4 linked regions of the Homo sapiens genome follow. The main gene of each other region encodes a partner of the protein of the gene in region 3 in a complex. Each region holds a gene or a part of one and is shown on either strand. Other genes may lie near its edges. The genes, in order: MBIP, TADA2A, YEATS2 and DR1.

What was found.
Region 1: YEATS2 (region 3) and MBIP share a complex: the UniProt entries of both Homo sapiens proteins name them as parts of the ADA2A-containing complex.
Region 2: YEATS2 (region 3) and TADA2A share a complex: the UniProt entries of both Homo sapiens proteins name them as parts of the ADA2A-containing complex.
Region 4: YEATS2 (region 3) and DR1 share a complex: the UniProt entries of both Homo sapiens proteins name them as parts of the ADA2A-containing complex.

The regions. Positions count from the first base shown.
Region 1 is NC_000014.9:36,303,561-36,311,192, reverse strand, and holds part of MBIP (MAP3K12-binding inhibitory protein 1), read left to right. Parts: intron 1-3,003; coding exon 3,004-3,101; intron 3,102-7,632. UniProt on the Homo sapiens protein: Inhibits the MAP3K12 activity to induce the activation of the JNK/SAPK pathway. Component of the ATAC complex, a complex with histone acetyltransferase activity on histones H3 and H4.
Region 2 is NC_000017.11:37,465,519-37,473,150, forward strand, and holds part of TADA2A (transcriptional adapter 2-alpha), read left to right. Parts: coding exon 1-23; coding exon of another isoform or gene 24-118; exon of another isoform or gene 119-137; intron 138-1,935; coding exon 1,936-2,007; intron 2,008-4,881; coding exon 4,882-5,014; intron 5,015-5,575; coding exon 5,576-5,619; intron 5,620-7,632. UniProt on the Homo sapiens protein: Component of the ATAC complex, a complex with histone acetyltransferase activity on histones H3 and H4. Required for the function of some acidic activation domains, which activate transcription from a distant site. Binds double-stranded DNA.
Region 3 is NC_000003.12:183,693,065-183,701,256, reverse strand, and holds the start of YEATS2 (YEATS domain-containing protein 2), read right to left. Parts: upstream 3,461-8,192; 5' UTR 3,264-3,460; intron 3,180-3,263; exon of another isoform or gene 3,047-3,179; intron 1-3,046. UniProt on the Homo sapiens protein: Chromatin reader component of the ATAC complex, a complex with histone acetyltransferase activity on histones H3 and H4. YEATS2 specifically recognizes and binds histone H3 crotonylated at 'Lys-27' (H3K27cr).
Region 4 is NC_000001.11:93,355,510-93,363,141, forward strand, and holds part of DR1 (protein Dr1), read left to right. Parts: intron 1-4,983; coding exon 4,984-5,130; 3' UTR 5,131-7,632. UniProt on the Homo sapiens protein: The association of the DR1/DRAP1 heterodimer with TBP results in a functional repression of both activated and basal transcription of class II genes.

The sequences.
Region 1 (7,632 bases), on a different chromosome or scaffold from region 3:
GTCACTACTGCACCCTGCTCAAACCCAAGTCCTCACTGGGTGCAGAGACTGAGTCTCCCTCTCCATTTAGTCACCATGTCTGTTGATTCTGTTTTCTAAATAAATATCTCTCAAATCTGCCCACTTCTGTCTTATCTCTACTGCTACTACTAGAGTTGAAGCCACTGTGATCTCTGGCTTGGACTGATGGAAGGATATTTACTGGTTTCTTTGCCACTGGACTCCTCTAGATCATCTCTACCCTGTGGCCAGATTGCTTTTTCTAAAGCTCAAATTTGATCTTGTTTCTTCCCAGCTAAAAATGTGGAGATTGGGATTGAAGGGGGTTTGTAATTTTAAATAGTATTGTCCACATCTGTAGTTCCAGCTACACCTCTGGGCTTCCCATCTCCCACTCGTTGTGCTGCTTTAGGATCTTTATACTCATGCCCTTCTGTCCATGCTTTTTCTTCCTAATCCTAGACCAGTGCAGATTCACCTTTTGTATAATCTTATATAGCACCTGGTATTCCCTGCTCCCCTTTAAAGCAGTTATCATGGTTCTGTTTGTTTAATGTCTGTCTCCTGCTAGATAGTCCGTGAGAGTGCAACTATGTCTGTCATATTCATTTCTTTGTACCTATTACAGTGCCTGGCACAAAGCAAGTGCTCAAATGTTTATTGAATGGACAGTTGCTTATTTCACCTTTGCAGATGTATGTACGGAGGGACAGAAAGTTAGTGTTTGACTCTCTCAGGGTAGGTCAAGGGATGATGGCATCCTAATGAAGTGACATTTGAGGCCTTGAAGGATTAGTAGGAATTTTCCAGAGCAAAGCATTCCAAAAAGAAGAAACACCATTTGCAAAAAAGGACAAAAACACAAAATATGGTTCAGGAGATATCTGAATCCAGTATAGCTGGAGTATACTAGCTATCTGAAGCTATGCTAGCCAGATGAAGGTAGAAGAAGAAAACAGAATGAGTAAGTCTTTGAGAGTAATAAGACACTGGCATTAAGAATTAATCTCTTCCCTCAGAAGTGGATGGGTTTAAAATGCCACTGTATAAAAGGATTGACTGGTTAAGTCTCTAATAATAGTATGAAACAGTTAAGTTTTTGGAAAAATATCTGTTGAATGTTTACTATGCTCCAAGCACTATTTTAGGCACAAGGGATACTGAGATGATATAATCATAGTCCCCAGCTTCAAGGACTTTATAATCCAAATGAGAGAAAGATTAATAGTGAAGTAGAGTTTTAAAGGAGTAATGAAAGGATGGGTGTAGTGGTGTGTGCCTATAATCCCAGTTCCTTGGGAGGCTGAGTGGGGAACAGAGCTTGAGTCCAGGAGTTTGAGACCAGCCTGGACAGTATAGTGAGAGTCTGTCCCAAAAAACTCAGGAGCACTGAAGAATGGTGGGGGCACAAGGAGCCTTTATGCGAATGAAGAGGTTTCGGCAGTGCCTGCGTTACCCAGTGAAGCTTGAACTGGCTCTTGAAAGATACAGAAGTAAGGCAGAGGACATTGTAGGTAAAGGGAGCAGCAAAAGCAAAGTCAAATGAACAAGTTAACTTATTTAAGAACAAGAACAACCAAGGTCCTAAGATTTCTTAAAATCCTCAAAATTTCTAGAATTTTTACATAACAAGTTGACAATTTTGATATAGAAATTTACCCGTATTCTTTAATTGCATAATGATTGGCTAATCATGTATTCATTCAGTCAGTAAATATCAAGCACCAGCTCTTTGCCATGCATTGTAGTCTTATGAACTGATGCTTCCTAGGTTTGTGCAGTGCACAAGCTGCACAGCCCTACCTAATGAACAAAACAGATAAAACTCTGTCCTCTTGGAGCTTATATTAGAATGGGGAAACAAATAATACAGAAAGAAAATATACTGAATGTTGGGTGGTAGTAATGGAATGGAGAAAATTAAGGTAAGGAGGATAAGGGAGTGCTGGGTAGGGGAGTGGTAGTACTGGTATTTTTAACAGAATAGTCAGAGAAGGTGTTACTGATAAGGTAACTTTTGAGCCAAGACTTGAAATTGACTTGGGATTATGGCGGTAGAGGGAACCAGCTGAAGCTTACAGGGTGCTTGGCCTCTTTGAATAACAGAAAAAAAGTAATCAAGTGGCTGGAACCATGTGGGCATAGGGAGAATATCCACATTGTGTATGGCCTTGTAGGCCATTGTGAGGGCTTTGGTATTTAATCTGAGTGAAATGATCAGGTATTGGAAGGTATTTAACCTCAGTGAAATGATCAGGTATTGGAAGCAGAGAAATGATGTGATCTAACTTATATTTTTAGAGGATCACTGGCTCCTGTGTTGAAAATACACTCTACGGAAGCATGGCAGAAACAGGGAGACCAGTTTGGGAGTTGCAGTAATCCAGGGAGAGGTGGAAGTGGTCTGGACCAGAAAGGCCACAGTGTGGAGGGGGTGAGAAGTAGAAGGATTCTTGATATAATCATAAATTTAAAATTTGAGTGGCCATAATTTACTCTTCCCCTCCTCAGAAAGTTTGTTAGTTTAGAATTATGGTAAAGCCCCTTTTTTACATTCTTTTAGGTCAAAGGAAAAATATGGCATGTAGGGAGAAATATTAATTGAAGAAAATAATATGACATATTGCAACCACTGCATTGAATTATCGTCATTTGTCACTATGCATTTTTGTCCTCCCATGTAACTATCAAAGCATATCAGAAATATAAATTGTTCTACATGGAAGCTATTCAATATCTTGTAAAATGAATTTAACATGAAACTCCTAGAATATAGGAAGCATAAATGGGGTTTGGAGAGAGGAAGTGTAGTACAATATGTCCGATAGTGTATAATACAAAAATACGACCTAAGGACTTCATTCTGTTTTACTTTTGTTTTTTATTTTCTTAAGTATTTTCCATTCCTTTGCATAAGTGTCTTTGCATGGTATTTTAAGAATAAAAATTGTGAAAAGAAAGAATTATTCAATAGTATCTCAGATTTTTTTTTAATGTATTTAGGTGGTCCAGTGCCAAGAGACATTTATCAGAGAATTAAAAAACTTGAGGATAAAATCCTTGAATTGGAAGGCATCTCTCCTGAATATTTTCAGTCTGTAGTGAGTATAAGTGTCTTTTAAAAATAAATGAAAATGTTATTGTATTCTGGATTCTTTGTGGTTTAACAGTCACTCATTGATCTATAAGCAAAACACTATTTTAATAATTCAAAGATGAATGAACACAGTCCTGTATAGGGGATATATCTAATTCCTTAAAATCTCTGGTTCTGAATATTTTTAAAATTTAGAATTTTTAAAAAGGGATACTTCTATTATATATTACCCACATTCTCAAACTTAGGCCATTTTCATGGCATAGTAAGTCAGCCTGGGTGGTGGTTGGGCCTGTTACTCTGAACTTGCTACCTTGTAAAACAGAGGCTTCCTCTGTAACCTTGCTCTTTCAGTGATCCCTCTGCCTCTTTAATCTCTCTTCCCCAACAGGCTCCTTCTCTCAGCTCATATGCAGTTAATACTAAACAAACACACACCTCAAGCTGCCACTCTTATTCTTTACCTTAACCACCAGACTTTCTATGTTTTTGTAATTCCTTAACTCTAGCATTCATTCATTCTTACCCCGTTTTCCAAGAACCTTAAGAAACAGTGTTGTGCTGGTAAGTTAGTATCTTTGGCACATCAACATTTTTCAGAAAAATGATCCTGAGCTCATTGTGTTTTCCTCAGTCTTCTGAGGTGATTATGTATAATACCTGCCTTCTCTAAGTTTTGTTTTTTTTTTAAAGCAGTACCATATTAGAACTAAAATAATATCAAAGTGAGATTATACCAAAACTCCTATTTCTGAAAAATTATGTGAGATAGCCCATTTTAGCATGGATCATATAAGTTAGTGGTGAAAATATATTTAAAATTTATTTTAGGTATGACAGCAATCTTCCAAAGTTATAGATTGAGTATAAGAGTGAGTTACAGAAAAGAAGTATTTCCAGAAGAAGAAGGCAGGTCACGTAACAAAAGGGAGCAGCAAGTCCTAAATGACAAAATTTCAGAGAAGAGTTTTAGTGATTTACTACTCTCAAATGTAAAATGAGGTTTATGAAAATACTAAGGGCTGAAGCAAAGATCAAATGAGATAATGCTGATCAAACACTTAGCATACTGCTTAGCACATGGTAAAAACCTCATTGGCATTTATTTAGTTTTATAACTACAAAGTAGCTGTATAAACGTGGAAAAGTCACTCTATTCCTCTGATCTTCAAGATGTCTAATTTTAGAAAATGTATTGGTTGTACTACATAATTACAAAGGTCTTTTCACTTTTAGGATTATTCTTTGAATGTCTTCCTAGGAGACTTCATAAAGATTTTTAATGACTTTTCCTACAGTAGTCTACCATAAGTTTTTCCCATTCTAACTGCCTTCATTAAAGAAGGCAATAACCTAGGAAAGTTATTTTTCTAGTTCAATTTCATACCTTGTTAATATAATTCTTATTAACGATAGAACCGATCTTACAATAGAGTATGGTAAAATCAGATGCCTCCAATGAGAACTTGCTGCAGCATCATTCCTCTCTTCTCTCTGATTCTGATTTATAAAAACTTAACAGAGGCCGGATGCAGTGGCTCACGCCTGTAATCCCAGCACTTTGGGAGGCCAAGGTGGGCGGATCACCAGAGGTCGGGAGTTCAAGACCAGCCTGACCAACATGGAGAAACCCCATCTCTACTAAAAATACAAAAAAATAAAAAATAAAAAAAATAAGCTGGGCATGGTGGCGCATGCCTATAATCCCAGCTACTTGGGAGGCTGAGGCAGGAGGATCGCTTGAACCCAGGAGGCTTAGGTTGCGATGAGCCAAGATCACGCCATTGCACTCCAGCCTGGGCAACAAGAGCAAAACTCGGTCTCAAAAACAAAAAAAACAAAACTTATAGATGTGTTTAACAAAAAAAAAAGCCCTCCACATCATAATCTTTTTGTTTTGTTTTGATCTGTTACAGATAGGATAGAGTGGGTAAAGAGGTAGAAGTAGCCAGATTGTTAGGACCTTAAGTGCTATGCTCAGAAGTTTAAAATCTATTTTCCAGGCAGGCAGCAGGGGGAATCTACTGAAAGCATTTGAGCAGAGAAGTGATTTGTGAACACGATATTTAGAAAGATTTATCTAATACAGTTGTGGGAGACAAACGAGAGAAACTAAGGATAAGGAGATAGTATTATGCTAGCTTAGATGTGAAGTTAGTTCCTAAAATAGGGACATGAGTGAGAATGGAAAAGATTAATGCAAGTAGGAAAAAAAATGGACAAATACTGATGATTGGATGTGGAAAGAGACAGAGAACAAGGATAGAGTCCAGTTTCTGGTTGGAAAAATGATACCATCATTGATAGAAATAAGAAAATCTAGAGAGAGAGATACTTTTGTGGGAAATGTGAATTTGAAGGCAGAGGAGGTTATGAAGGTAAAAACATCAGGTAAGCTTTTTGAGATACGGCACTTACACTTGGGACAATTGGGAGAGTCTGTGTAGTGTGAGAGTCCATTGATGGATAGGAACACAGATTGTCTGAGGCCTGAAGTCTGAAGCTTGGTGACTGCCTAATTTCAGGGGCAGGAAGCATTTGTAAATGTAAACAGAGGATTGGCATATATGTATTAAGCATTCAGAAAAGGATGGATGGTGGCAACCTGTGATAAAACAGGTGATTTTTAAAAGTATTTCCAAATATGTTAAAAAAAAAAACTATATATCTTTTAGAAGAACTGCAGTTCTTCTGGATTAGTGTTGTAAGTGACACATTAAATTAGTAGTGAGCTACAAGGAAGAACAAAACACTGGAAAGTTTAAACATTCAGACTCATTCTGTCCTTTAGGCCTGTGAACATACATGACACAAGCCCTATGGGAAAGAAGATTTCATACTCATCACCCTTCTATAATAGGATGAATGAGCCATCTTTAGGAACCTCACTTGGAATACAGTCAGCTCTAAGAGTGTCCTTGCAAACAGGAGAAGTTGAGCACATACCTTACAGAGGACATAGTACATTATTCATCACCCTCACCATCATGCTGGGAGTACATGCATGGTAATTGCATAATTTTACATATTTATCCCTCAAAAGTATACAGAAGAAACTACATATGTAGCACAGTCCTATAGCTTCTAAAGATAGGAAAGGAAAGTTGAGCCCATTCAGTTTATTAAGGATTGAACTTTTGTTGGAACTCCTGAACTCTGAAAAGATTTTCATTGAAATGTGTTTATTCAGATTCACATGTAGATGAATTCTAAACATGGGGGAGCTTCTTACAATTGGATAGAGATTGATTATCATGGGTAACATTGAAGCGTAGCATAGAAAAACAAATATTTATGGGGAAAAAAGATGTCATTTGTATTTGTTTTATAAAATGTAATCAGATTATGTAAAGTTCTCATTTTACGACCAGACATAAAACTCCAAAATAAGTTATATGTGTATAAAACAGGATTTATGACAAAAGTTAATAATACTTGTTGGACATTTTGATATAAGAGTTCTAAAGATCTTTATTCTTCACATTAGCCATGGAAAGCTTTAAATGTAATGTTTTCAAAAGTTTAAGGGCATGGCCTTAACAGTCCATTTAAAAGAACGATCTTAGAGTATTTCCAAAGACTTACTGATTTTAAATTATGATACTTGAAAACAGTAAGTACCAACATGCTTTTACAAGTATATTGTTTAGTTTATAGCATTTATCACTCATATGTTTATACATGTTTTTCACTTTATATTTTGAAACTCTCAAGGGCAGGAACTATGTCTTGTTCATCTTTGAGACACAGAATGTAGTCAATATCGAGTAGATGTGCAAATGAATGGATAGGACTTGGCTGATAGCTCATTATTGGACTTTGAAGGTGTGTTAACTTTGTTCAAAGCACTGACTGAGAGTAATTTTTAGTCTGTAACAGTAACTCCTGGTTCTTAAGGGAAGTATCGGGGGAGGGGAATGCTGAAAATCAGGTCAACATCATGTACACAGGCCATGTGCGTGTGAACGTGTGGTGGGTCTGAAGCATGAGTGAACAACTGGATTCAGCTAGAAAATTAGATTGTAAACATATTTCAGAGGGCCTTGAAGGTCACACTAACCAGTTTGCACTTCTAGTATCATTGGAGCACAATTAAGTTTTAGAGAAAGAGAGAAACTTGTAATTTAGGTCCCTGTCTGGTGGCATTATGAAGTCTGAGTTGGAGAGAAATTGGAGTCAAGGAAACTAGTTTAGGAAACATGTCATTATCCAAGCCAGAGAGAAATGAAGGTCTGAATCAGGGCTCTGGGACTAGAAGGGAAGAAAAACATTTTAGATACTGCACGCATAGAATCAGTTGCCTTTTACAACTGAAAGAAAGCAAGCCAGTCATGGAAGAGGCCTCCTTACCCTTGAGTTTCCTTAGAGCACTGGTTCCCTGGATTCATATGTGTGTGTGCATGTGCGTGAACGTGTGTATGACAGTCATGCTCTGCATAAGGATGTTTCAGTCAACAGTCAACTGCATATATTACAGTGATCCCATAAAATTATAGTATGGTATTTTTACTGTATCTTTTCTATGTTGAGACGTG
Region 2 (7,632 bases), on a different chromosome or scaffold from region 3:
CAAATTCATTGAAAGCCATGCATGTAGGTGGTTTTTGAGCCTTGAGCAGTATTTGTGTGTGTATATTTATATAAATAGGAGAGATAATGGTGTGTTTTATGTGAAGTTCTATAAATAAATAAATGGATATTTCTCTCTTTGTTCCCCTTTATTACCATGAGACAAATTTGGGACTATGGGGGTGGCAGAAGAGAGGTTAAAAAGCCCTAATGACTTCCCCCATTGCCCCAGATAAACAATAATTTAGTAGTTTTTCTCCCTACTTTGTATCATGGGAACTTTCAAATATATATAGAAGTAGAGATAATAATATGATGAACTCCCGTGTATCCATCATCCAGCTTCAGCAGTTTTCAACACATGGCCAGTCTGGTTTCATCTTTACCACTCACTCTTCCCTCCTGCCCTCAACTGGATTATTCTGAAGCAAATCCCAGACATCATTTTATTTTGTTCATAAATATTTTAGTATTAAAAGTAGTTTTAAAAATGAGGACAGAGATGGATAGCTTGTGGAGATAGTACTTCCATCGATCTCTTGCCTTTCTGTGGTATTTCTGTGAGAGCTCTACATAGTTACCATTTGATTTTTCACTATAAAAAATTAAAAGTTGTTATGAGGCCGGGCGTGGTGGCTCACACCTGTAATCCCAGCACTTTGGGAGGCCAAGGCAAGAGGATTGCTTGAGTCGAGGAGTTCGAGACCAATCTGGGCAACATAGTAAAACTCCATCTCTACAAAAATACAAAAGTTAGCCAGGCATGGTAGTGCACACCTGTAGTCTCAGCTACTTTGGAGGCTGAGGTGGGAGGATTGCTTGAACCCGGGTAGCCGAGGTTGCGGTGAGCTGAGATCACACCACTGCACTCCAGCCTGAGCGACAGAGTGAGACCCTGTTTCAAAACAAAATATGTTGGTATGGCAGTAAGGCCTAGATTGTTAAAATAATATGGACTCTGGCTTGTTCTGTACCTTTCATCATGACATTTGTGTATGTGGCTTCTAAGTTTAGTTCTGGGAAGGTAGTCTACTAAGGCCCTTATTCTCACCGTGAAAATATTTCTTACATAGCATTGCAGACATTTATCTGAGCCAGGTTGGTTGTCCTCACCAAACACCTTGTTTGGTTAGCATTCTTTGTGTGGTTTGTACCAGGTGACTGATCCTTTACTTCCTGTCCCAGTTTGGGACACACCCCTGGTTTATGTGTCATTCCAAAACACTACACCCCATGGATTGTCCAGGCTCTTCCTTCATTCTCTGTTTCAAAAGCAGCCAAATTAGAATGATTTGTAGAACTTTTAATAGAAGATAGTTAGAGCAGGGAAACTTGGTTGTTAAAAAAATTATATTTTGCCCAGTGCGGTGGCTCATTCCTATAATGCCAGCTACTTTGGAAGGCCGAGGCGGGTGGATCACCTGAGGTCAGGAATTCGAGACCAACCTGGCCATCATGGCAGAACCCCATCTCTACTAAAAATACAAAAATTAGCCGGGTGTGGTGGTAGATGCCTGTAATCCCAGCTACTCAGGACGCTGAGGCAGGGGGAATTGCTTGAACCCGGGAGGTGGAGGTTGCAGTGAGCCGAGATCATGCCATTGCAGCCTGGGCGACAGAGCGAGACTCTGTCTCAAAAAAAGAAAAAAAAAATTGTTACTTTTGTAGACAAATGAATTTAACCATTTCACTAAGTTTTCTAGAAGACAGTTCCAGCTGCTGCATCTGGAGACAGCAGCTGGAAGATAGCTGGAGTAGGTTTTCCTCAGCTCTTGGGTAAAATTTCTAATGAGAAGTTACCAACGAGTAGGATTCTCCAAATGAACTTCCCTAGTCTTATAAGGCAGAATTAATGAAAATGCTCAATAGCAAAAGTGCTCACTAATGTTGCTTTTGTTTTTGTAATTTTTTCCTTCATTCCTTTTGGGGAAAACAGTGGAATTTGAACTCCGAAGGGAAATCAAGAGGCTCCAAGAATACAGGACAGCAGGCATTACCAATTTTTGTAGTAAGTATGCTTCAGCTACATACCGTACTTGAGGGCAAGTATCTTCCAGACACACAGAGGAAGTCTCTGAATTGTTGTGAATTTTTTTTTAAAAAACAAGCTTTCCTTTACCAGAATGCTTTAAACCTTTCCAGTAAAGTTTTGGCTATTTAATCCCTATAAATACCTTTGTATAGATTATCTTTGGTACTACAAAAGTTGTGAGACAAAGGAAAGAGAGGTGCTGCTTTAGATTTAGGATTCTGCCGAGGCTCTTTAAAAAAAGGGAATCTTGGGCCGGGTGCAGTGGCTCACACCTGTAATCCCAGCACTTTGGGAGGCCAAGGCAGGTGGGTCACTTCAGTCCAGGAGTTCGAGACCAGCCTGACCAACATGGTGAAACCCTACCTCTACTAAAAATAAAAAAACTAGCCAGGCGTTGTGGTGCACACGTTTAATCCCAACTACTCGGGAGGCTGAGGCACAAGAATCGCTTGAACCTGAGAAGCAGTTGTTGTAGTGAGCCAAGATGGTGCCACTGTACTCCAGCCTGGGTGGCAGAGGGAGATTCTGTTTCAAAAAAAAAAAAAAGGAATTTTATATTTTAGGTGTGTCACCCTTTTCAAATTTAATGATACATGGTCTTAGCATTTTTATAAAATAATGAAGCTTCAACTGGCTCCAGGTGCTTGCATCCCAGTTACTTGGGGTAGTGACAATAATTATATTATTAGCAGCTAACATCTATCAGATATTTACCATGTACCAGTCTCTATGCTAACCATTTCACTTGGATCAAGTCAATGAATTCTCATGACAAACTTATAAAGTACCGTTACTTCCATTTAGTGAAGAAATTAAGGTATAAAGAGGTTACAGAGCTAGTTAGTACTAGAACCAGGTCATAAGAGATAGTGTATTATAGTAGTTAAGAGCTTGGGTCTAGACTTAAAAAGCTTGAGTATAAATTTTGGCTCTCCAGCTTGCCAGCTCTGTGATGTGATTCTATCCAAATTTATTTTTCTTTCCTTTTTTTTTTTTCCCTAGAGACTGACTCTTGCTATGTTGCCCAGGCTGGTCTCAAACTCCTGGCCTCAAGCAGTCCTCCCGCCTAGGCCTCTCAGAGTGCTGGGATTACAGGTGTGAGCAACTGTGCCTGGCCTCTATTCAAGTTTTAATTTTCTAAGGTTCTTAGAGTTAGTGTAAAGATTTAATTAGAGATACTGCATATAAGCATAGCACAGTATCTGGCACACAATAATTCCTCAATAAATGGCAGTTTCTGTTGTTTTGCTGTCATTGTTGAAATGATCTTTAGCATTCCCTCCTTCTTCCTATTTGAAGTTTTTGTGATTATTGATAGTTGTCACCTACTATCTATAAGAAATAGTTGGCTTCTTTTTTTTTTTTATTTGAGACGGAGTCTGGCTCTGTTGCGCAGGCTGGAGTTCAGTGGTGCCATCTTGGTTCACCACAACCTCTGCCTTCTAGGTTCAAGCGAGTCTCCTGCCTCAGCCTCCTGAGTAGCTGGGACTACAGTCATGCACCACCATACCCGGCTAATTTTTTTTTTTGTATTTTTAGTAGAGATGGGGTTTATCCATGTTGGTCAGGCTGATCTCGAACTCCTGACCTCAGGTGATCCACCCACCTCAGCCTCCCAAAGCGCTGGGATTACAGGTGTGAGCCACCACGCCCGGCAATAGTTGGCTTCTTAACACAGCCCTGTGGGTGCAACATAGCCTTATGGATGTAAGTTCAGCCTAGTATAATGGCTCTTTAACAGTGGAAACCATTTTTGAAATTAAATTTTGTGTGAGCCCCAATCTACAAATAAGATAAAAGTGGGCTGGGCACGGTGGCTCACACCTGTAATCCCAGCACTTTGGGAGGCCGAGGCGGGCGGATCACTTGAGGTCCAGAGTTCAAGACCAGCCTGACCAACATGGAGAAACCCCGTGTCTACTAAAAATACAAAATTAGCTGGGCATGGTGGCGCATGCCTGTAATCCCAGCTACTCCGGAGGCTGAGGCAGGAGAATGGCTTGAACCTGGGAGGTGGAGGTTGCTGTGAGCCGAGATCGCGCCATTGCACTCAAGCCTGGGCAACAAGAGCGAAACTCCGTCTCAAAAAAAGATAAAAGTGGAATTACTTTGGTTGAACTTTAATGGTTCAATTTATGTGTAGAGCCCAGGACCCGCCGGTATCTGGCAGTGCCCTTTCTCTTTACATTAACCTCTAAGATACTCTTGTGGTATCCTGGGGCTCTGTGGAACCTAGTTTGAATTTTGAAACCCACTGGTGCAGTATTTTGGAATCTGTGAACCTTTGTTAACATGTAGAAAACACCACGCAGCTCTTCTGTTTAGCAAGATGCATATAGAGACTCTGATAACTAATTTTGGTTTCCTGATATTGGCTGCCTCTAAGAAATATGGAGAAGAGGTACTACATGTCAAAGAGAACTCTTTTTTTGTAATTCTAATTGTTTTTTAAGGAAAGGCATATGCTTATAGCACTTGTGTGACTTTGAAAAAATTTATAAAAATAGAAAAAACAGGAAGCAAATATGACTATAGTAAAAGTTGGTTACTTTTTGAGAGTGGAAATATGAGCAATTCTTACTTTCTTTGTACTTTTCTGTTGGTTTTTTTCCCCTTATTTCTTACAGATAGAAAAGGAATACAAATGTTTAATATTTAATACTTAGTATTAAGAAAAGGATTTCAGACTAGGGAAAATCTACTTGGGTCTTGGAGAAATAATTGTGAAAGCAGTTTTGCAAAGGAAACAGACTTTAAGAACAAAACCCAAAACCGGTTTCTTGGTCAGTTAGGAAGCCCTTCAGTTCTGCTGCATTGTCATTGTGGTCATTGTGTTTTCTATACCCCCAGGTGCCAGAACCTACGATCACCTCAAGAAGACACGGGAGGAAGAGCGCCTTAAACGCACTATGCTCTCAGAAGTTCTCCAGTATATCCAGGACAGTAGTGCTTGCCAGCAGTGGCTCCGCCGGCAAGCTGACATGTGAGTAATTACTCCAGGGTGAAGGAGGCATTCTTTCTGGGATGCCTTGGCCTTCACATATATTTTTGGGCACCCTAGATGGCAGAGTAATAATAATTGAGTAGCTGGAAGAATTCAGAAATATTTTAGCAGTCCATCTCAGAAACAGTGCCATACTGACAGTTTTGAGAAATAACTGACCTCCTAGAATCATACTTTACTACTTTGATCCTATTTTTTAAAATGAGTGTATTTTCCCCCAGCCTTCTACCCATGACTTCAACTCTCTCTTCATACCTAGATTTTCACTGGGGAATCATGTTTGTATCCCTTCCCCTTGAGTGGTGTTAGTGGTGTTCTAGATTACAAGCTCTTCTTAACAAATCTGAGGAATTTTTCTTCCTCAGAACAGATTTTCTTTCCTGCTCAATACAGTGAGATATCTGTAAAACATAGTTCAGTCTATCTCATTACACTTCTTCAAGGTGACCTACCTGATAAATGGCACCCAGTCTCACCGGGGCTTTTGGAAATCACCTTGTTTGATATGACCTAAGTTTAAATTCCTCTTCTTCGTTGTAGTGATTCCGGCCTGAGTCCTTCCATTCCAATGGCTTCGAATTCAGGTAATTATTTCTCAGGCCAGAACAAGTCTTAATTGTGAAGTTTGCATCGTAGGGGTTATAGTGACCCAGCAATCTTCCTTCCTCTGTGGTGTCAGGGTGCTTAGGCAGAGTAACAGTAATCAAGTGTTAGCCCAATATATAAACATCAGTATGTTTTCAGAACCTTCATGGCCAGACAGAGACTATCCTCAGAGTGACAGTATAGAGTATAGACAGTATAGAGACAGGGGAAAAAAGAACTTCAGAGAGGTAACTTCTTTATTTTACCAATGTTCATGAGCAGTTAGTTTACTGCAGTTGTGTCTACCACTAATTTTGAGACTTATTTCACAGGAGATAAATTAAAAGCTTTTTATTTTATTATTTTTTATTTATTTACTTATTTTTTGAGACAGAGTCTCGGTCTGTCGCCCAGGCTGGAGTGCAGTGGTGTGATCTCGGCTCACTGCAACCTCCGCTTCCCGGGTTCAAGTGATTCTTCTGCCCCAGCCTCCCGAACAGCTGGGATTACAGGCATGCACCACCACGCCTGGCTAATTTTTGTATTTTTGGTAGGGACGGTTTTGCCATGTTGGCCAGGCTGGTCTCGAACTCCTGACCTCAAGTGAGGCACCCACCACGGCCTCCCAAAGTGCTGGAATTACAGGCGTGAGCCACCGTGCCCAGCCTAAACTTTTTATTTTTATATAACATGAGCAAAGAAGCATGTTACTTGCCAGAAACATAAGGATTTCTGAGTTAGAGACCTAAAGTATTTCTATTTCTTCGTTTTACCTCTTTGAGTATGTCCTATTTTGAAATTAGTATACAGAGCAAGATTAAGCCATACGCTATCTGATGATCCTTGGTGATTGGTAATCGATGACTGGGAATTGGGGGAGGTATGTCTCAGTAGATTCAGAATCTGGGTCTCAGATTTGTCCGCGTTAGGGACTTTTTTTTTTTTGAGATGGAGTCTCGCTCTGTCACCCAGGCTGGAGTGCAGTGACGCGATCTTGGCTCACTGCAACCTCTGCCTTCCGGATTCAAGCGATTCTCCTGCCTCAGCCTCCCAAGTAGCTGGGATTAGAGGCGCCTGCCACTATGCCCAGCTGATTTTTGTACTTTCAGTAGAGATGGGGTTTCGCCATGCTGGCCAGGCTGGTCTCGAACTGCTGACCTCAGGTGATCTGCCTGCCTCGGCCTCCCAAAGTGCTGGGATTACAGGCATGAGCCACTGCGCCTGGTCACTGAAGGGACTTTTTTTTTTCCCCCATTTATTCCTTTATTTCAAGTGATTTTTTCTTAATATGGAAAGAAGAAAAAGGTATTGTTTTAGGGGAGTGGCTAAGACAGTGAAATCAAAGTTTTATTTTGTAAGTTTCTTACTGCCAACACTCTACCCCCAAAATCTAAATACAACTAAGTTAATACTGGCTAATTAAAATGAAGGAACTGGGTCAGGTGCAGTGGCTCATGCCTGTAATCCCAGCACTTTGAGAGGCTGAGGCGGGCAGATCACCTGAGGTTGGGAGTTTGAGACCAGCCTGACCAACGTGATGAAAACCCATCTCTCCTGAAAAAAAAATATAAAAATTAGCTGGGTGTGGTGGTACACATCTGTAATCCCAGCTACTCCAGAGGCTGAGGCAGGAGAATCGCTTGAATCCGGGAGGCAGAGGTTTCAGTGAGCCAAGATCGCACCATTGCACTCCAGCCTGGGTGACAGAGTTAAGACCATCTCAAAAAATAAATAAATTAATTAATTAAATTAAATGAAGGAACTGGCTAACATGATCATATATTTTTGTTCTCTGTACTATCTGCACTGACTTGTTCATTGTTTCTTTTTTCTTTTTTTGTGAGACAGGGTCTCCCTCTACTATCCAGGCTGGAGTGCAGTATGTGATCATGGCTCACTGTAGCCTCAAACTCCCAGGCCTAAGTGATCCTCCCAGTTCAGCTCCTGAGTGGCTGGGACTACAGGTGAATGCCACCAAACCTGGAGAAATTTTTTTTTTTTTTTTTTTTTTT
Region 3 (8,192 bases):
CAAAAAAACTTAGCCAGGCGAGGTGGTGGGTGCCTGTAGTCCCACCTACCCAGGAGGCTGAGGCAGGAAAAGGCGTGAACCCGGGAGGCAGAGCTTGCAGAGAGCTGAGATTGCGCCACTGCACTCCAGCCTGGGCGACAGAGCGAGACTCCTTCTCAAAAAAAAAAAAAATTTATATATATATACACACACACACACACACACATATATATATACACACACCAGTTAAAAGAGTGCAATTCAGTGGATTTCAGTATATTCACAAAGTTGCACAAAAATCACCACTATCTAATTCCATAATGTTTTCATCACTCCAAAAAGCAACCACTTACCTCTTAATTGTCACTCTCAATTCTCCTCTCCCTTCATCCCCCTGGCAACTACTTTTTGTGTGGATAAACTTGCCTGTTTCTGGACATTTCGTATAAATAGAATCATACAGCACGTGGCTTTTTGTATCTGCCTTTTTTTTTTTTTTTTTTTTTTGAGACGAAGTCTCCCTCTGTCGCCCAGGCTGGAGTGCAGTGGCGCGATCTCCGTTCACTGCAACCTCCACCTCCCGGGTTCAAGCAATTCCCCTGCCTCAGCCTCCCGAGCAGCTGGGATTACAGGCCTGGGCAACAGACTGTGATTCTGTCTCAAAAAAAAAAAAAAAAAAGAAAGAAAAGAAAAGAAAAAGAAAAAATCTGCTTCACAAGTCTTGTTTTCTGTGAGAAAACTGCATCAACTCCCACCATCTACTGGGTATCACGACAGAAAACAGACTGAAAGCAGAGCAGGACCAAAGGCAGGGAGATAGGGAACAATCCAAGAACGTGGCAATGAACATTCAAATAAAAATCCGTAGTTGATGAGAAGAGGACAGGACCAACTATTTCTGAGAATCTATTCTAAGAAAATACAGGGTAATGTACATCGTATGTGGGCTACACTCAGAGATCTACAACCTAAATGTTAATTCTCTTCTTCCTATGGATTTTATAATAAAAAATAACCCACAGTAAAATATCATGCATCCACTGAATGAACATGAAGCATTTGAAACTGAGAAACATGTGGGGAGAACTCTGCATGCTGTATGTCAAGCTACCTATTTTTAATATCTAAAGAACTTTTGACAATCAATTAGGAAATAACAAAAGATGACAGAGAACAGGAAAAGAAATTCACAAACAGCCAATAAATGGGAAAAAAATGTTCAAACATACTAGTAATCAATAAATGAAAAAAACACAAGACACCATTTTTCATCGATTAAGTTTAGTTTTGGGGCAGATGGAAATGGGGCACTTTTTTTCTAATTTGCACTCATTAGTTTCATTTCCTCACATCCGGTTCCCACCTCCCACTTCCAGAACTATGGACAGGAAGACCAATGACCAAAACCAATAACCACCGTGTTGCCAAATTCAATTGACAATCTTAATGAACATCTCAGAAGCCCTGATAAAAGGACCAATTCAACATCTTCCAGAAACACCTCTTTTGGCTGCCATGATACATGCCATTTTGGTAGGAGCTTTTTCTCCTACCTCACTTGCTGTTTCCTGCGTCCTTTCCCCAACCTTCTTCCTCTACCAGACCTAGAGGTATTTGAGTGTCTGCGCCCTTTTCACTTCTCCACACTCTTTCCCCTCAGTGATCTCACACAGCACCATACCTTTGAATATCATCTACGTACAGATCACTCCCAATTTTTTTTTTTTTTAAGAGACGGGGTCCTTCCTGCCTTGTAGCCAAGGCTGGTCTAGAATATCTGGGCTCAAGCGACCCGCCTCGGTCTCTCAAAGTGCTGGGATTTCAGGTGTGAGCACCGCGCCCAGCCACTCCCAGATTTTTATCTCTAGCTCTAGCCTCTCTCCTCCTTGAGTTCCAGCCCTCTACATCCAACTGCCTCAACACACCGACTTCATAACTAACATGCATCTAAAATTTAATACATCTAAAATAGAATTCGTTTTTCCCACCTCAAATTTCTCTCTTCCATTCTTCATCTCAGTAAACAGCACCACCACCTACTCAGTTGCTCAAAACAAAAATCAAAAAAGCAAAGATTCCCACCATTCCCTCACCAATCCAAGTCTTGTTCATTCTACCTTAAAACATTTAAAAATCTGTTTATACTTCCCCATCTCCCTGCCACGGGCCTAGTCCAAGCTACTGCAAAGAGCACAGTAACTGACCTCGTAGGTTCCTCCCCAGCCCTCTTCCTCTACATAGCAGTCGGATCATGCTACTCGCCTTCTCAAAACCTTCAAAGGCTTCCCGGGAAAAACTAAACTCCTTATCAGGGCATCATCTGCCCTATCTTTTAAAGAGTATACACAAACAGGAATATACATCCAAGGGTAGTATCTCTAGATCGTAAAACTGCGGGCATTTTTCTCTGGCTTTGCTTGTATTTTTAAATTTTTCTACGCTGAATACCCTCTACTCATTAAGAAAGGGGAAATGATATTGCTGAATTCTATATAATATTATACCGCATTTTTTACATGTGAGCGAGAAAAGGGAATGGAAAACGTGGGTCAACTCTGTAACTGCTGAATGCTTAGATGAAAATACTAGCCAACATCAAACTAAAAAAAAATGATGTGTCAGGCCTGTAAGATTGCTGATGGCATTTCTCTTCCTCTGGTTTCTATTTCTTAACATAATCACATTCATGATGGAGAAAACCTCATTGTCTTCTGCAGTCTGGCCACAGCCCTTCAAGCCAGCCTTTCCTGCAGGAGTCCTCACTTTCCGAGGCTTCCACTCCGCCCCGCACTGCCCGCAGCTCCGGCGCGTTGGCCCCGGCCCCATCCCTGGACCCCCAAAGCCTCTCTGACCCCTCCCCTCCATCCCAGGGAGGCCCGGTGGGGATGGCGACAGGTTGGAGGGGCATTCCAGGATCCTTTCGGTAAACCCACGACTTTCTGGTGCTGGGGCCAAATCTTGCCTCCAAGGCCAAGAGCTTAACATCCTAAAAGCTCCGGCCGCTGTGGCTCGGGGTCCCGTATCCCCTCAGCGCAGCGCCCCGCTGAAGAGGAAGCCCCCAACTCACGTTCCAATTCCAGGCTCCCGCTTCTGCGGCTCCCCGGCCCGCACCTGGGATCCTCCCTGCCCTCCCCTCGGCCCCGGGGCCTCACCGGGTCCCGCTGCCGCGCTGCCTGCCGATGGGGGAGGGGCGCGCACGTGCCCGCGCCGCCCCCGCCCAAACAATGCCCCGGAGAGCGGGGCGCGCTCCCGGCCGGTCCCTTCCTGCGCCCGCCAACACTCACCCTTTCTCCGGGTCTCCGGCTGCAGCGCGGGCCCCGCCGGCCGCCGCGAGAGAGCACGGCGAGGTGAGAGAGCGGGCGAAGCCCCGCGGAGCTGCCCCGCCACAAGGCCCCAGCGACCCCCGCAACCTGCGGAAGCACACGGCGCGGTGGAGCCCGCCCGGCGCGTTCCGCCCCGCACGTCAGCAGCTGGGCGCGTCGGGGCGCGCGCGGCGGCGCGCGCGGCCTCGGGGCGGAGCTCCCAGGGATGAGGGCGGGGCGGGGCGGGGCGGGGCTGGTCCGGGCTGGGACCCCGGCCCGCGAGGGCACTTCCTGGGCAGTGTGGGCGTCGATTCTTGCAAAGGCACAGTCGTCCATCACTTTCCTGCCCCAGAAGATGGCGAATTTCAACCCCAAGTTTGACAGAATATTCATTCTGCCGGCGTGTATGAGCTTCCCTATTAATCACAATAGTGACTATGATGTTTGTGTGTGCCATCTTTGTGCCAACCCATGTGCTAAGTGCTGGGTATACAAAATAACAGTAGTTATTTCTAGCCCATTTTACAGATGAAGAAACTGAGGCAGGGAAGGCTTGAGACTTATCTCAGTCACACTAGCTAGTGACAATCCAAGTCCAGTTTTCCACCTAAATATCACTTGAGGCCAACATTCTCTTTCGTTGTAACTCTACCACCCTACCCAAGACCCTGTAATCTCTCTGCCCAAGACTATGAATAGCCTCCCAACTGGTCTTGGGGAACTTCTGTTCCCCTTCAATCCCTTCTCACTGTATAACGATTTACTACTGGAGCTGAGTGGTGGGTTTAGGAAGTTCACTTTTTTTTTTATACTTTACATACATGTTACCAAATTTTTAATGTATTTAATGTTTTTATCAACGCATAATAAATATAAGTGGTGTTTTGTTTTTTGTGTTTTTTTTTTTTTTTGAGATAGAGTCTCCCTCTGTTGCCAGGCTGGAGTGCAGTGGCATGATCTTGGCTCACTGCAGCCTCCGCCTCCCGGGTTCAAGCGATTCTCCTGCCTCAGCCTCCCAAGTAGCTGGGATTACAAGGCGCGCGCCACCACGCCTGGCTGATTTTTGTATTTTTAGTAGAGACAGGGTTTCACCATGTTGGCCAGGCTGCTCTCGAACTCCTGACCTTAGGTGATCCACCCGCCTCAGCCTCCCAAAGTGCTGGGATTACAGGCGTGAACCACCACCCCCAGGCTAATTTTGGTTTTTTTAGACAGGTCTCACTATCACCACAGCTAGTCTCACACTTCCGGGCTCGAGAGATCCTCCTGGCTGGGCACGGTGGCTCATGCCTGTAATCCCAGCACTTTGGGAGGCTGAGGCGGGCGGATCACCTGAGGTCAGGAGTTCAAGACCAACCTGGCCAACATGGTGAAACCCCGTCTCTACTAAAAATACAAAAATTAGCCAGGTGTATTTGGGCATGCCTGTAATCCTAACTACTTGGGAAGCTGAGGCAGGACAGTCACTTGAACTCGGGAGGTGGAGGTTGCAGTGAGCCATTGCACTCCAACATGGGCAACAAAAGTGAAACTCCATCTCAAAAAAAAAAAAAACTAAGAAAGGCTTCCTTGAACCTTAAGCTAAGACTCAAGAGATAATAGGAACTGGGGAGATAAACAAATTTCATGGAGAAGGGGGTGAGGTCACAGGTCAGGATGAGTGTGTTGGTGTTCCCCTACTCTTAGGGTTTAACAGTGAGGTGGAAAGCATAGAAATACCCAGATAAGTGCCAAGAAAGCTAGAAGCTGACTTCCCTTGGTGTAGCTTGGAAGGCTGTCCAAGTCTGTGAGAAGGCTCACACAGTAGGGCTTGGGAGCAGGCCATGGCGTTGGGAGGAGTCTGCAATAGTGCTGCTGGAGCGCTGCAGCTTGCACATTTAGGTATGTCAGAATTCCAGACTTCTCTTGTTGCTCCCTGCCTGGCATGCAGAAAGTAGCATGGTTAAGAGCCATGGACAGACCAATAGGCACTGTGCCAGGGGGCAGGTTTCCTAAAGCAGAGGCCTTGTGGTGGGCTGATGGCCAGGGAATGGCTACAGAACGTAGCTAAGACCCCAAGGATAGGCAGTACTGAAGATACCAGTGGAGCTGAAGCACCCCTAAGTCAGCTGGTGAGAGGAGCGGGGATGGAGGAGTGGGGATGAAAGATGAGACATCAAACTCTGAAGGTGCTAAAGCAACAGGTCATGAGCTTGCCAACCAACCACCTCAGCAGCTGATGCCTGCAGGGCAGTGGAGACCAGAAGTCACCAGAGACATAGCAGCAGAGGCCAGTGAGAACCCAGGCTATAGCTTGAAATCCCGCACACAGATCTCCCCTCCCACCGCTGCCTTGAGGCTTCCCCTGTATCCTGTAGGCCGCCTTGGGAAGTCAAGGGGAAGAAGGGTAAAGTTCTGATAAGACTACAACTTTGAACTGTTTACCCAAATATTCACCAAAATGAAACTTTTTTTTTTTCTTTTGAGACTGAGTCTTGCTCTATTGCCCAGGCTGGAGTGCAGTGGTATGATCTTGGCTCACTGCAACCTCCGCCTCCTGGGTTTAAGTGATTCTCCTGCCTCACCCTCCCGAGTAGCTGGGACTACAGGCGCGTGCCACCATGCCCGGCTAATTTTCTGTATTTTTAGTAGAGACGGGGTTTCACTGCGTTAGCCAGAATGGTCTCGATCTCCTCATCTCGTAATCTGCCCGCCTCAGCCTCCCAAAGTGCTGGGATTACAGGCGTGAGACACCACACCCAGCCTATTTGCCCTTTTAAAAACATCACTTGCAGCTGGGCGCGGTGGCTCGCGCCTGTAATCCCAGCATTTTGGGAGGCCAAGGTGGGTGGATCACCTGAGGTCGGGAGTTCGAAACCAGCCTGGCCAACATGGTGAAACCCCATCTCTACTAAAAAAAAAAAAATGCAAAAATTAGCTGGGCGTGGTGACACATGTCTGTAATCCCAGCTACTCTGGAGGCTTGAACCTGGGAGGTGGAGGTTGCAGTGAGCCGAGATCATGCCACTGCTCTCCAGCCTAGGTGACAGAGTGAGACTCCGTCTCAAAAAAAAAAAAAATCATTTGCCCCAATGAGTAGGTGGGGAATGACTGAAGAGGTGTGTGAACATAGAAGCAGTGAGACAGTTGGAAAGCAATTTCAGTCATCCAAGCAAAAATTGAGGGTGGCACTGGTCGTGGTGGCTCACACCTGTAATCCCAGCACTTTGGGAGACGGAGATGGGCAGATCACCTGAGGTCAAGAATTCAAGACCAGCTTGACCAATATGGTGAAATCCCGTTTCTACTAAAAATACAAAAAAATTAGCTGGTCGTGGTGGCTTGTAATCCCAGTTACTCGGGAGACTGAGACAGGAGAATCGCTTGAGCCCAGGAGGCAGAGGTTGCAGTGAGCCAAGATCGTGCCATTGCACTCCAGTCTGGGCAATAAAAGGGAAACTCCATCTCAAAAAAAAAAAAAAAATGAGGATGGCTTACCCTGGCAGTGGAGATGGTGGGAAGGAGATAGATACAAGAACTATGGAGAAAATACCAGAAGACTTGATGACGATGAACTGGGAGGAGACTGGGGAGAGAAGGGAAGGGGACTGGCCTCTGCTAAGTCAAAATGGCCTCTTAGATAAACTGCCCCTTCCTCCAGGCAGACTCAGCTCTGCTCTGGAGCTTGGCAAGTGTTTAGAGGCTGGTTTTAGGCTCCTGGCTAGCCAGGCTCCCTTAGGCAGCACTCACCTGCACAGCCACTGGAGGTGGGCCTGGAGGGAGAACTGGGGTTGGCTCATACGTTTCCAGCAGTGGCTGATGGTGGATGATGGTGTCATTTCCTGAAAGGAGGGAGACTAAAGGAAGAACAGATTTGAATGTTGGGGGTGGGAGAATCAAGAATTCCCTTTGGGGCATTTTAAGTTTGAGGCATCCACTCGAATACTTTTTTTTTTTTTTTTTTTTTTTGAGACAGAGTCTCGCTCTGTTGCCGAGGCTGGAGTGCAGTGGTGCGATCTTGGCTCACTGCCACCTCTGCCTCCCGGGCTCTAGCGATTCTCATGCCTCAGCCTCCCAAGTATCTGGGATTACAGGCGTGTATTACCACACCCGGCTAATTTTCATATTTTTAGTAGAGACGGGGTTTTACCATGTTGGCCAGGCTGGTCTCGAACTCCTGACCTCAGGTGATCCACCTGCCTTGGCCTCCCAAAGTGCTGGGATTACAGGCATGAGCCACCACACCTAGCCCTGAAGATATTAAATCTGTACATAAGGCTTTGGGGCTCAGAAGAGACCTGATGGGTGGCACTGTCAACGTACTGTTGTCAACAGGTAGTTAATGAACACTGGTGAGGTTGCCATGAAAGAGTACAGTTCAGAGAGATTGCGTAGTCACAGCCTACAGATGTCACATTTTGTTTTAAATGAGCCAACATTTCAAACACTGACAAATTTCACATAATACCCTGAATTTCTGCTTCTATGGAAAATCAGAAACTGTGGTAACCTGGCCATACGTTGTTATTTTTTATTTTATTGTTATTTTTGGGGGGATGAAGTCTTGCTCTGTAACCCAGGCTGGAGTGCAGTGGCACGATCTCGGCTCACCGCAACCTCTGTCTCCCAGGTTCAAGCAATTCTCCTGCTTCAGCCTCTCGAGTAGCTGGGATTACAGGCGCATGCCACCACATCCGGCTAATTTTTGTATTTTTAATAGAGAAGGGGTTTCACCATGTTGGCCAGGCTGGTCTTGAACTCCTGACCTCAGGTGATCCGCCCACCTCGGCCTCCCAAAGTGCTGAGATTACAGGCGTGAGCCACCGCTCCCAGCCCATACATTGTTATAATTGGATATTAGCTATTAATAACACTACTTACCAGGCAGTGCTCCAAGCACTTCACAAATTTAATCTTTGTAACAACTTTATT
Region 4 (7,632 bases), on a different chromosome or scaffold from region 3:
GTACTGTTTCTAACATACCATGCTGATGCTCTAGCCTCCATTTTATATGCTTAAACTTATTATGGGGCTTTTAAATAGAATATGTATTATCCTTGCCAGGGCAAAATATAAAGAAATAATTGACTGCCTGCTATATCTGTCTTCACCTTTCTATCCCTATTATCTGTTTTTTTATTCCTCTTTTTTGTCTCCCTTGTTTCTTACCCTGACTTATGTATGAAGATCTCTAGTATTTCTTTACTATTGTGAGGATGACCAGCGGAGAGGTAATATTATAGCAGTTGCCTAGTACTTCTTCCCTAGAGCACTGAAGTTCTAAATATGAAAGAGTGGATAAGTAAATATATCTTTTTTATCACTTTCATTTTGTTTCATTTTTTAGACTTTAAATATTAACACAATGACAGCCTCATTTGAAGCTAGCAGCAAATATTTGGAAGGAGGGAACCTTTAATACATCAAGATTAAAGTTAACTTTAAATTATAAATGAGTCATTTTAATATGTGGGAGTGAGAATCTTAAAACATAATGAAAACCTCCAAAAGAAAAGTGAATTAGGAAATACATGCCTGCTTACCTGTCTTTCACACCCCAATTTTAGAAGAAAAATACTTGGGATGGATTGAGTAGGGGGCAAGAGAGAAAAAAATATATTACAGTAAATATCACTGAAAAATGTTCAATTTGTGGAAATGAATACAAATAAAATTTTATCAATCAACTTTTTTTTTTTTTTAAAGAGACAGGATCTCACCATGTTGCCCAGGCTGGAGCACAGTGGCTATTGACAGGCTCGATCAGGCACACTTCAGCCTAGAACTCCTGGGCTCAAGGGATCCTCCTGCTTCAGCCTCATGAGTAGCTGGGACTATAGATGTGCACTAGTGAGCCCAGCTCAACAGTTAGTTTTAAAGGCATAGAAATGTTTTTATGTTCAGAGAAAAGTATCAGCGCTGATACAGGGCCGTGGTAGCTAAAAGTCAATTAAATTTGAAATGTAACTAGTACACAGCTTTGCAGACCATTGAATAGACTACCAAATCAAGCACCTTTGCAGTAAAACCTTTGTAGAGACTTGAAATTATTTGAATTTTTTCCATGTCACAAAATTATACCAACTTGTAGTTGATTAGACCACAAAATATAGGTATGCTTATGTTGGTTGAATTTATGTATTTGATTTGCCCTGCAATTTTCTTATGAACTCTTACAATTTTTTTTTTTTTTTTGAGATGGAGTCTTGCTCTGTTGCCCAGGCTGGAGTGCAGTGGTGCTATCTCGGCTCATTGCAACCTCCGCCTCCCGGGTTCAAGCGATTCTCCTGCCTCAGCTTCCCAAGTAGCTGGGATTACAGGCATGCACCACCATGCCTGGCTAATTTTTGTATTTTTAGTAGAAACAGGGTTGCATCCTGCTGGCCAGGCTAGTCTCAAACTCCCAACCTCAGGCGATCCGCCCACCTTGGCCTCCCACAGTGCTGGGATTACAGGCATGAGCCACCGCGCCCGGCCTTAAAATGTTTTTAGCGAAGCTCTGTTAGTTGGTTTTGAACTCTGGATATTCCTGCCGTAAAAGTAAATATGCTATTGTGTTAGAATCAACTATTTTTCCTATTTCTTTACAAAAATGGATGACAGTCATTATTAGGGAGAATGGATGGTTTCTAATTTCCTAAGCAAAATGAAGTTTTTGTTTACTGTAAAAGTTGTCTTATCCTTGTTTTTTCTAATATCTATAGTCTTTTCCTTACTTATTTCTTCCTCTTTGCCTTTAACCATATACGGGTCTTCTGCATTTCCTTGTATCCCCCAAACCCTTTCATCTTTTGCTATAATGATCTGTGTTACCCACCAAGCAAGGTGGCACCTTCCTGTAGTCCCAGTTACTCGGGAGATGGAGGCAGGACAATCCCTTGAGGCTAGGAGTTCAAGGTTGCAGTGCATAACAACTATGCCTGTAAATAGCCACTGCACTTTAGTCTGGACAACATAGCAAGACCCCATCTCTAAAATAAATAAATAAATAAATAAATAATGATCAGTGCTACCATTTTTTGAAAATGTACAATCACTTATTCCTCAAATTTAACTTCTGTCCTACCACAGAGGCATTTAATCACCAAATTCAGTAATTTTTTTTCCTTTCAATTCTTACTCATCTGTTTTTTTAAAAATAACATTTAATGTAGACCTCTTCCTTTATTAGTCTCTGATACTATGGTTACTTGGATAGCTTTCCCCCAAGGTAATAGCTTTTCTTCTTCCACTTCACTACTGCCACCTACACCAGCACCACCCTACTCCTGCCCTTCAGTCAACAAATTTCAAGTCAGAATTCAATTAACATGTCCCTACTGTATGTAAGACATATGTGGTACTATAGATATAAAAAAAAATGAAGAATATATCATTATGAGACTGACTACTTGGATGAGGAAGATAACTATAATATGAGGCTGACCACTTATGAGAAAGAGATTCTGGCTGGGCATAGTGGCTCACACCTGTAATCATAGCACTTTAGGAGGCCCAGGTGGGAGAATCACTTGAGCCCAGGAGTTTGAGACCAACCTGGGCAATATAGTGAGACCCTCTCTCTACAAAAATAGAAAGAAAGAGGGAAGAAGGAAAGAGAAAGAAATCCCAAGTATGGAAACATTACATCAAATTTTAGGGGTACAGGAGTATGCCAACTAGTAAGCAATTATCTTAGCTCCAGACCCACCTTTCTATGCTCTGCTTTGTGACTGGACCTAGTACTCTGCAAGCCACATGTTTCTTTGCTAGCTGACTCTCCATTAGACTCTGTTGCCATATGGGGCTATCGTGGGAGATTGCATGGATGGAGGAAGAGAAAGGGTTTTCTCTTACTTTCTCTTGTCTTTCAGTTCCTTTGAACAACCCAGCAACACTTCTTCACCCTGGTTGCATCAGTTTTCCTGTAGCAGAGACTGAACGCGGTTTGCATTTTCTCTAATACACCACCAGCCTGAACCCGCACCCCATCCCCCCACTCTGGCAGTGTGGATCCCAACCCTTGGGGCCCTCCTCCAAGCGCAGATATATTAGTACTAGCTTATCTATGCCCATTCTTCCGAGGCCTGAGTTTCAGTTCCATGAAGTGGTTTCTTAAGCTTCTAAATTTTAAAAATTCCAGCATTTTCCTTTATTCCCTCAGTTTTAGGGTTGGTGGCTGCTTCCTGTAGCTGCTACTTTCATGACATCTTCATGTTCTCTTCCTGCCTTTTCAGCTCCCTAATAACAACTTTATACTTGTTTAACAATTCTTCGTATTAAATTTTTTCCATTCCAGTAACTCATGTGACATCTATCTCTTGATTATACACTGACTGATGCCAGGAGGAGAAAATAGTATTTCAGTTTGACTTGAAGGAAGGGTAGAATTTCAGTAAGTGGCAGGAAATTTCACATAGGATGAGTGTCAGCATGAGTAAAGGTAGCAAAGATGAGGAAGTATGGTGTATATTTGGGAAACATTTTGTGTTCTAGGCTTTTTTGAAGCACAAAGTACATGTTACAAAAAAAGACTATAGAGAGGTTGGGGTAGACACTAATTTGGAAGACCTTGAACTCTAGGCTAGGAAATTTGGATTTGATTGATAACAAATGATTTTTTTTAAAAAAATGAAATAGTGACCTGATTAGAATTTATATCTAGAAATGTTTGGATAATAAAGTCATGACAGATTATTCAGAAGAGTGAGGATTGTACATGGTAAAATCTTAAATGTTACTGGTTATGCTGGGCATCACTGTTTTCCTGTAGCATGTTCATTCAGAAAATACTGAGGGCCTTTATGTTAGGAATGCAACAAAGAATATGGAAACAATCTCTATTCTCAAGTGTGGTGGAAAAAAAGGATATAAACTTAGATAATTCTAGAACAAAGTGGATGGATATGGGAATGCATAGGGAATTATGGTATATTAAATAGAGCATAAAATATGGCTTGGAAAGGTCAAGAAAGACTAGCTGATTTGCATTTCAGATGATGACTAGGAATTAGCTATGCATAAAGGGGAGGGTCTGAGTTGGACTTAAAGAACAATTCCAAGAACAGACAGAGAAGGAGAAAAGGATTGTTTTGGCAGAGTCTAATGGGAAATTGTAAGACCTTTTTAAGAACAGGTTCATTTTTTCCCTTCTTGGTGTGGTTTTTCTGCAAACAGATGAAATTAAATTGTGAAGGAGCCTTAGCTGTTTCATAGGTAATTAATAATGTATGCATCCTGGTTTCTTAAATCCTGTGGTTGTTTTTAATAGAGGATATATCAGATGAATGGATTTTAAGTAGTATCTTTTTACTAGTGTGTATACGGGAAGGATATGTATATTTGTATGTGTGTATATGCAAATGTGTGTACTTACAGAGAGGGAATGAGGGACACAGAGAGATAGGCATATAGTAGGTTAGGGAATTGTAATAGAAACTCAGAAAGAAATAATGGGGTAGCTACTGCATACATGTACAGTACTTCTTTCCTATGAGGTAGAGGTACTATACTAGAGAACTTTTAAACCATATAAATAAATTTTAGATTGAAAAATGTTTGTATCAAAGTTGTAATATGAGGGTACAGAAGAGTCAAGTGAAATGAAAGGAAAAGAAGAGGGAAAGAGCCAGAGGGAATATTGTGGGTTTTTCACAATATTGGTTCCACTTTTTCAACTTCTTCAGTTGAATCAAAGGTCATAAATTACGTGAAATAAAACAGGGCCATTTATAAGAGATCCAAGTTTGAGAAATTTCTTAGACCTGTGTAGTTAGAAAAAAGCAATCTCTAATTATATTTACCTATAGAGTTTATGTTCTCCAGATGTGTGACAATTACATAGTACTTGGACAGTATCCAAGTATGATAATAAACTGTCTGAAATTGGCCTAATCTACATTTAACCAAAGTGTATATATTGTGGGTTTGTAAAAAATTGTTATTTTTTTTTATGTTTTGGGTGTTTAGGCTAGACAGCAACAAGCAGAATTGGCCCAACAGGAATGGCTTCAAATGCAGCAAGCTGCCCAACAAGCCCAGCTTGCTGCTGCCTCAGCCAGTGCATCTAATCAGGCGGGATCTTCTCAGGATGAAGAAGATGATGATGATATCTGAAATTCACCAGCTGAGTTTCTATTTCTTCTATAAATGTTTTTCCCTGCACAACAAAAACAGTGAAAGAAATGCTTATCTGTAATTTTGTATGCATCTTGGTGGACTTGTCATTGGTATTCTAGGGATGTCTGCTATTAAGTTTCATCTATTGTGTGCTATACATGTAAAAACTGTCTCTTTGAACTATTGAAAATTTAAGGTTCAGTATAATATCAATTTTGAATTTTTAATGGTGTTTATGAAATTTTAGATAGCAGCGAGTCCTTCGTTTGATCAATAAACAGTGTTACAGATAACTTCAAGTTTATAAAAATACAGTGAAATTTCTACAAAGCTCTAAATCTGCATTTGCATTTCCTCTGCCCTTTTAACTAAACTAAAACTTGTGAATTTTAAATTATTAAGGGGGGGGTGCTGTGTGAATCAGTAGACATTGGATTGGGTTGGTGAAAGAGTTCAGTTCTGTAGTATCTGAATTTGTCTTTTAAAATGAGTACATATATAGGCAATAAATATATATGCTCAGATCAATATACTTGTTTAGAAAAACTTCAAGACATTCAAAAACTAGGAAGGAGTATGTTTAATAGTATTTGTATAAATTTGGTGGTTATGTTTTTTTATTTTGTTTCTGTTTTGTGTAGAGGTAAAAACTATAGTTTTATTACAGCATAATTCATTTTGAGCTCCACTATGACATTTCAAAGACTGCCCAGTTTGGAAGTCTGTCATGATTTTTACTCTTTCACTCCAATTCAGTAATTGTTGATAGTATTACTTACCTAGTCCATCCATACTCATATTATTCAAATATATAGGTGGTACTTTTGAAACAATTACATTGGTTCTCTTGGTTTAACTGAGGTTTATGAATATTCAAACCTTTGCTGGGGGAAAGAAATGAAAGTTAATGAGCATGCTTGCTATGAGAGAGGGATTTTTAATTTAACTTGTAGTTATAGTTTACTTATTGTTTTTAGAATTACTTTTACATTTTCCCAACTAGATGGCCTAGAGTCCAACATTACCTTTTGAGATGACATTATTGTCTCCATAATTGAGTGATAGCTTTAAAAAAAAGATTAGTTTTGCTTAAGAAGTTATGTTACAACTGATCAGCCCTATATGAATTAACTGATCAGCCCTATATGAAACATAAGTTGTGTTATAACTTATCAGCCGTATATGGAACATAAATAGTTTCTACCTGCTTGTTAGAGAAGCTTTAATTTGGTTCTAATAAATACAGTATGGTAGTGTTTATAGGAATCCAGGATGTTGAAGAAATGGCATAATGTCTATATTTTGGAAACAGAAAGGAAAAGTCACTTAAGATAGTATTAAGTAATTAAATTCCTATGTCAGTTGCCAAATCTTTTAAACTTATGTATTCACCAAGCCCAAAAATAGATTGTGGCTCCCAGGATTCCAATTTTAATTGGAGAGCTAAGTAAGTAAAGTTTTATAACTGTTAGGTTTCTTAATGATCATATTTTGCAGTTTTAGTAAAAGGGAAATATTGTTATACATTTATTAAATATACTTCCCCCATGAAGTGAAAAGGTTAATTTTGCTGAATGTTTTAAGTTGAAGTTACTTCATGGATGTCATACCCATGAAGTGCATTTGGATGAGATAGAAGAAATTGTTTTTTAAAAAGTTTAAGTACCAAAGGTAGTCTAGTCTAGAACGATAAGTTAATACGTGTTGGCTTTTCTAATTTGTACTGTAACATCCTTATACTTTCTATTTTAAGTATATCTGTTTCTTAAGTAAACAACTTAGATATTTTCCACACCTTTTTTTTTTTTTCTGATGCAGAGTTCAGGTTAATATTTTACTGCATCTGATAATGTATTATACGTTTGAAGCCTAGTGACTTTTCATTTTGACATTCTTGTGATTTCATATGCTGTATTCTTCAAGCAATAAAATTGTGATGTGTTTTATAAATGGTTTTTATATTTAATGTTCTATAGAGAGATTTCTATTATTACCATTTTTACTATTTTCAAGAATCTTAGGCCCAAAAGACATTTTGGTCATTTGGTATGTAGTACCTGCCTTTTGTTTTTGTTTACTGTTATTTCAAAAAATGTGGTTTTACTTGTATTTTTATAATTTACAGTCCTAAGATCGAGGCATAACAAAGCTTACTTATGCAATATTTTATTTTTAGGTTTTTTCTTTTTTTTTTTTTTTTTTTTTTTTTTTTAGCATTTAAGAGTCACTATTATGTTTTGCCAGTTAAAATTTTTTAAATCTTTTGAAGAGAGAAACAAAATCTTCAGCGTTCTTGAGAAATAAAATTATTGTTCAGTAAGTATTTTTCCATCCCCTTGAATATATGTTATATATTCTTTTTCGGCAGATTATCAGATTAGTAAGTGTTTAAAAGGCATCAGTTTTTAAAACTGCATATACCACACACACACAAAACAGTACACAAATAAAGGTTTTCACAAATTAAACAAACTCACATACTAGTCTTCAGATCAAAAC